Linked DNA regions of Homo sapiens. The protein of the gene in region 1 purifies or fractionates together with the protein of each later gene. This does not show direct contact. Each region holds a gene or a part of one and is shown in the gene's direction. Other genes may lie near its edges.

Region 1 (3,653 bases):
CGATGCAGGAGGATTGCTTGAGTCCAGGAGTTCCAGAGCAGCCTGGGTAACAAAGTGAGAGCTCGTCTCTACAAAAAGTTAAAAAAATTAGCTAGGCGTGGTGGCATGCACCTGTAATCATAGCTATTCTGGAAGCTGAGGTGGGAGGATCTCTTGAGCCCAGGAGTTTGAGGTTACAGTGAGCTATGATCACATCACTGCATTCCAGCTTCAGTGACAGAATGAGATCTGGTCCTCCTTCCCCCTGACCCCCCAAATTATATATTCTACTTTGGTAGCAAGACCATTATCACTTGGAATCACCGCCCGCCAAATTTTTAAAATTAGACCCTTTAATATTAAAGAAAATTAAAAATATTCAGGATAATTTGTTCTTAAACCAAAAGCATAACAATTCTTAAAATATTGGAAATTAATACTTCCTTCCTGAATTATTTTTCAGTTGCTCAAAATGTGGTAAGCATGAGTAAACATCATGTACAGATAAAAGATGTAAATCTGGAGGTTACGGCCAAGCCAGTTCCATTAAATTCAGGAGTCAGATTCCAGGTAACAGGATGATTAAAATTTTTTGGATTTCTGTTCATCACAAGCACTTCTCTCATCCATATTTCTGAACATCAAATCATTTTCCAGGTTTATGTAGAAGTTTCTAAAATGAAAATCAATGTTACTGAAATTCCTGACACATTGCGTGAAGATCAAATGAGAGACAAACTAGAGCTGAGCTTTTCAAAGTCCCGAAATGGAGGCGGAGAGGTGGACCGCGTGGACTATGACAGACAGTCCGGGAGTGCAGTCATCACGTTTGTGGAGATTGGAGGTACTCAAGGGTGTAGAAGGTTAACAGACACTCTGCCATTTCAGTCATGTTCTGTTGTTTCTGAAAGTATTCCTATTCTACTTCTTTTATTTGGAATGTATTAGCATGATAATTGGGGATTTTAAAAAACCTTATAAAATAGTAGAGTGTAGGAAATTATTTCCAGGGACAGTACTAGGAAAGATAATATTGCTACAAATAGGCAGGGTGCAGTGGCTCACCCCTGTAATCCCAGCACTTTGGGAGGCGGAGGCAGGCGGATCACTTGAGGTCAGGAGTTCAAGACCAGCCTGTCCAACATGGCGAAACCCCATCTCTACTAAAAATACAAAAATTAGCCAGGCATGGTGGCAAGTGCCTGTAATCCCAGCTACTTGGGAGGCTGAGGCAGGGAGAATCACTTGAACCCAGGAGGTGGAGGTTGCAGTGAGCTGAGATCACCAGGCATAGTGGTGCGTGCCTGTGGTCCCAGCTACTCAGGAGGCTGAGGTGGGAGGATTACTTGAGGCCAGGAGGTTGAGGCTGCAGTGACCTGTGATTGCACCACTGCACTACAGCCTGGGAGACAGAGTGAGACCCTGTCTCAAAAAACAAAATTAAAAAAAAAAATTGATGGATTAGATTTTTTCATGACAAAGTAATACATGCTTTTTTAAGGAAGGTGAAATAATACAGAAGAGCAAACATTTAGTAAAAATGAGACATTTCGGCCGGGCCCGGTGGCTCATGCCTGTAATCCCAGCACTTTGGGAGGCCGAGGCAGGCAGATCATGAGGTGAGGAGTTCGAGACCAGCCTGACTAACATGGTGAAACCCCGTCTCTACTAAAAATACAAAAAAATTAGCCAGGTGTGGTGGCGCATGCCTGTAATCCCAGCTACTCGGGGGGCTCAGGCAGGAGAATAGCTTGAACCCAGGAGGTGGAGGTTGCAGTGAGCCGAGACTACGCCACTGCACTCCAGCTTGGGCGACAGAGTGAGACTCCGTCTCAAAAAAAAACAAAAAGAGACATTTCCTCAAACTTCCCTTTCTCCTACTATTTAGTTAGTTATGGTTATTTGGGTGTCTTTCCAGGCTTTTCTCTGGGCACATTAAAACATGTCAATATCCTTTTTTTTTTTTTTTTTTTTTTTTTTTTTGTGAGACAGAGTCTTGCTCTGTCGCCCGGGCTGGAGTGCAGTGGCACTATCTCAGCTCACTGCAACCTCCGCTTCCCGGGTTCAAGCAATTCTCCCACCTCAGCCTCCCGAGTAGCTGGAATTACAAGTGCATGCCACCATGCCTGACTAATTTTTGTATTTTTGGTAGAGACGGGGTTTCACCATGTTGGTCAGGTTGGTCTCGAACTCCTGACTTCAAGTGATACGCCCGCCTTGGCTTCCCAAAGTGCTGGGATTACAAGCATGAGCCGCCGCTCCTGGCCCAATATGCATTTTTGACCTGAGCTTTTGGATGATGTTTAGGACATCCTGGTGGGATGTGTCAGGGAGAGCTATAAAAGGAAGGGGTCTTGAGGGCTACAGTAATATGTTGTCTTGGAAATGAACAATAACTTGGTGGAAACTTCCATAGTCAAGCATCCAGATTTTAATTTGCCAAATTCATATATTCATTTAGCCTGTTTGGTGTTAGTTTGTCTATATCTTGGATTTTAAAAAATCTGGCCAGGCGCAGTGGCTCATGCCTATAATCCCAGCACTTTGGGAGGCGGAGGCGGGTGGATCACTTGAGGCCAGGAGTTCAAGACCAGCCTGGCCAACATCGCGAGACCCCTTCTCCACCAAAAATACAAAAATTAGCGGATGTGCTGGCTCACGCCTATAGTCCCAACTACTTGGGAGGCTGAGGCAGGAGAATTGCTTGAACCTGGGGGGTGGAGGTTGCAGGGAGCTGAGATTGCATCACTGCACTCCAGCCTGGGTGACAGAGTGAGACTCGGTCTCAAAAAAACCGAAATAAAATAAATAAAATAAAATAAACTAGAATGCAATTTATAACTCTACTGTGAGAGATAATACTAGCTTTGGAACCTGTGTCCTTGGGCCATCTGGGGATGTTCTCCTAGAGGTTACATCTAGCCAGATGGGAAAAATACTTCTGCAGGTTATAGGTTATCCAGCAGGTAACTACTGAAGGATGTGAAGGTATTCTGGAGATAAATATGCCAGATACTTCATAAACTGTGTCTTACTGACTCATCACAATAATCTACAGGGTAGGTACTGTAATTATGCTTATTTTACAGAAAAAGAAACTGAGGCTTTAAGAAGTCAAGCAACATATCCAAGGCCACATAGCTCATAAGTAGCAGAGCTAGGACTGAAGCTGGTCTATTTGACTCAGGACCTGTACTCTTTTTTTTTTTTTTAACTGTGATAAAATATATATAACATAAAATTTACCATTTTAACAATTTTTAAATGTACAATTCAAGGGTACTAAGTACATTCACAATGTTGTACAACCATCACCACTATCCATCTCTAGAACTTTTTAATCACCCCAAACTGAAACTCTGTACCCATTTAACAATAATTCTCCATTACCTCTTCTTCCAGCCCCTGGTAACCATCATTCTACTTTCTGTCTCTATGAATTTGCCTATTCTAGGTACCTCATTCAAGTGGAATTATACAATATTTGTCCTTTTCCTGTCTGTCTTATTTTGGTTAGCATAATGTTATCAGGGTCCATCCATGTTGTGGTATGTATCAGAATTTCATCCTTTTTAAAGGCTGAATAATATTCTCTGTGTGTGTGTGTATTTTATATATCCATTTTGTTGATCTGTTCATCTGTTGGTGGATGCTTGGGTTGCTTCCACCTTTTG
Region 2 (3,653 bases), on another chromosome or scaffold:
ACAACAACAACAACAAAATCGTAATTCAAACCATGGTAAGCTTGGGACCATCTGTAGAACTGAGAAGGCAGTAAGGGGGTGAGCCTGATTCAGAGCTGAGCAGCTGGAAAACAGTAGGCTGTATATATTAATCTCATTATGTTCTAATAATTTCCAGGTGAAGCATCAACCAATTTTCATAAAAGAAAGATTGAAGCTTTTTGAAATACTGAAGAAAGACCATCAGCTCTTACTTGCCATTTATGGAAAAAAGGGGGATACAAGCAACATCATCACAGTAAGAGTGGCTGATGGGCAAACAGTGCAAGGGGAAGTCTGGAAAACAACGCCTTACCAAGTGGCTGCTGAAATTAGGTAAACCGCAGTGTGGAAAAGATATTCAATCTTAAGTAATTATACTGAAGCCTGGTGAAAATGTTTTCTTAGGGACCGCTAATATATTACTCCATTCTCACGATACTAAAAGGACATGTCTGAGACTGGGTTATTTATAAAGGAAGAAGATTTAATTGACTCACAGTTCCGCAGGGCTGGGGAGGCTTCAGGAAACTTACAGTCGTGGCAGAAGGGGAAGCAAGCATGTCCTTCTTCACATGGCAGCGGCAAGGAGAAGTGCAGAGCAAAGTGGGGGGAAAACCCCTTATAAAACCATCAGATCTCATGAGAATGCACTCACTATCAAAGAACAGCATGGAGGTAACAGCCCCTGTGATTCAGTTACCTCCCACTGGGTCCCTTCCACAAAACGTGGGGATTATGGGAACTAGAGTTCAAGATGAGGTTTGGATGGGCACACAGCCAAACCATATCAGCTAATTTTTTTTTTATTCAGTTGAATAAATTAAATGTATTTAATTTTTTTCCTCTGGCTTCTCCAAGGGCCATGTAAATAAGTAGTTGAATATCAGAACACAATCATTTCCTGTTCTAATAAAAATATATAGGAGAGAAAAAAATCTGTAATTCTTGATAGGCCATTTTACACTGACTTTATTCGTCAATCAAGTAATTTCCATGAGTTTTTACAGGTCTTTTAAGTATAGATTGAAGATAAATGTTTTAGAGCTATTATCAGTCTTGGAAAAGTGCTTTGACTTTTCTAGAAATTAGATACATTAGTGAACTTATATTGTTTTGACTCATGTTAATTCTTAGCATTAAATACAATTGTATAGAAGCTATTGTATAAATACAATTATATAGCTTCTATACAATTGTATTAATGCCATGTAAATAAATGTTCATCATTTAAAAAGCAAACTGTTTCAACAACTGAAATTCTCAGATTTTCTTTGAAAACTATGGCTAAGATTGTATTTCTGATTCATCCTATTATATTGTTAAATGCTCTCCCAGCCTGTTTTCATGTTTTCCAGGAGGAATGATGTGCTAGGAGAAAACAGGTTTTGAGGCAAGAATAAGTTTGTTTTCTCATGGAGAGTCAGGTTGCATGTTAAATGTGTTGGGTCAGTATTTCTCAAAGTGTAGTCCCCAGACCAGCAGCATGGGCATCACCTGGAAACTTGTTAGAAAAGCAAATTTGGGGATCCCACCTCAAACCCCCTGAATTGATCAGCCATCAGTGTTTTTATGAGCTCTCCAGGGGCTTCTAATGCAAGCTAACCGTCTAGAAGTGACCAGTCAAGCCTAGTGGACATCTCTGGTCCATGCAGTTATTTATGGACCCAGCTTCCTCCCATCTTGTTGATCTGCTGTCTCCTAGGTAGGGTTTCTTTGTGTCTAGCGGTGGAAGCTGGGTCCTTGCATGGGCCTGCCTGCAGTCAGGAGGAAGAGAAGCTGCAGAGCAATGATGCTTTGAGGCCAAGACCCCATAGTGGCTGGCTTCAGTTTCCACTTACATCCTCTTAGCTCACATTTAGTCACATGGCTATGCCTAGCTGTAAGAGAGAATTGGAATATAGCTCCCTTGGCCGCCCAGCCACATGTCCAGCTAAAGCATTCATACCATGGAAGAGAGGAATGGTTTATGGAACAACAGAGAGTCTGCCACAGTCTGCCCCTCTGACATCCAGATATCTGTGGGTACTCTTCTTTCAACATCTGACACACTCACTCCCCAAGTGAGACAACTCTTATGTTCCATAGCTCAAAGCCTGGGATTTCTGAGTGATGTACAGAACACCCCCCATCAGGCTGACCACTTGTATTCTAGCAACAAATAAACTGATAGACAAGTCTGCTCACACCACACGTGCATACAGTACACAGAAGACAATCACAAAGTGTGTGCTTGGAAAAAAGAAGGAGGAGAAATATAGCAGGGAGTGGTATAGAGAAGTCATCAGATTCTGCTTGAAGCCACCTTGAGGCCCCACAGCCTGGCAGCAGTTAGTGCTTGTGTCAGCCCACCTGTTCATCCTTTGTTCTCTGGAAGCAGCTGTCTTATCCCATGATCCTCCATGGGCCCTGATTTTGCACTTTGGGAAGTTCGGAGTTGTCCATTACCCTCACTTGTCACATCTGAAGTGCACGAGTTTGTCCTCTTGGGATCTGTGCAGTTTCCACAGCTCAGTTCTGTGGTGCACATTTGGGGCCTGAGGGTTCCCTTAAGGATCACATAGTCACAGATATTTGTGAGCTGAGCTTATGATTTGTTTGGCAATACAATTACCATGATCAGTTAGCCATAGTAGGCTCTGGTCTGTTTGCAGCTAATCCGTTCCACATGAAAGTAATCTCACTTAAAGAATCTTCTAGATAGAGACTTCTCACCCTGTTGTTGCATGGCTTTTTTATTCGGCTCACTCCTGTCTCCTTGTTTAATGGACTGAGATCATATGAAGCAGAGGCTTGTGGGAGGGAGGCACTCTTGCTCTCTAATCCTTGCAGTTCCACTGGCCTCTATTGTCTGGATTTATGTGTGGCCTTTGAGAAGGGCTATCAATGCCTGTCCCTCCTGCGGTTTGGGAAAGAAGATTGTCTTTCCCATCTTGCATAGCTCCACGTTTCTGAACTTTTAGTCAGTTGAATTACAGGACACGGGCAGAGGGAGCCTCCCTATCCCTTCCACCTCTGCTGGCAAACTAGATTGTTTTCATCTGAGATAACTCATTCTTGTAGCTTCTTGCTGAAAGCAACAAGAGTTACCCAGGGTATACCAACACTGTCCCCCCACCTCCACCCCGCCCCTTTTCTCGATCTTGGCTCACCACAACCTCCGCCCTCCGGTTTCAAGCGATTCTCCTGCCTCAGCCTCCCGAGTAGTTGAGATTACAGGCATGCGCCACCACACCCAGCTAATTTTGTATTTTTAGTAAGGATGGCGTTTCTCCATGTTAGTCAGGCTGGTCTCGAACTTCCAACCTCAGGTGGTCTGCCCACAGCAGCCTCCCAAAATGTTGGGATTACAGATGTAAGCCACCACGCCCAGCCCTACTCTCCCCTTTTATACCTGCTTTCTTGTGTGCTACAAGCACTGTGACACATGGTTTGCCTGCAAGTTTTATCAAATATTTTGATATACTATCACAAAGGTTATTGGCTCTCCATATGTTAGAATCTGTTTCCTTGTTACTCACTGCCAGTCTGTTAAGCCAGTGCCACTTGTTTTGGATTTTTACTTCCAGGTCCTTATTTCTGTATTACTTAAGATATATACTAAGCTGCTACAACAAAGACATCACAAAAAACTC

The links. The genes of interacting proteins can lie anywhere in the genome.
Region 2: the proteins of NMI (region 1) and TARS3 purify together in Homo sapiens (affinity purification with mass spectrometry; 3 studies listed by BioGRID and IntAct, with this or other methods). This does not show direct contact.

What each region holds. Positions count from the first base shown.
Region 1 is NC_000002.12:151,272,654-151,276,306, reverse strand, and holds part of NMI (N-myc-interactor), read left to right. Parts: intron 1-442; coding exon 443-549; intron 550-636; coding exon 637-823; intron 824-3,653. UniProt on the Homo sapiens protein: Acts as a signaling pathway regulator involved in innate immune system response.
Region 2 is NC_000015.10:101,717,827-101,721,479, reverse strand, and holds part of TARS3 (threonine--tRNA ligase 2, cytoplasmic), read left to right. Parts: intron 1-157; coding exon 158-354; intron 355-3,653. UniProt on the Homo sapiens protein: Catalyzes the attachment of threonine to tRNA(Thr) in a two-step reaction: threonine is first activated by ATP to form Thr-AMP and then transferred to the acceptor end of tRNA(Thr).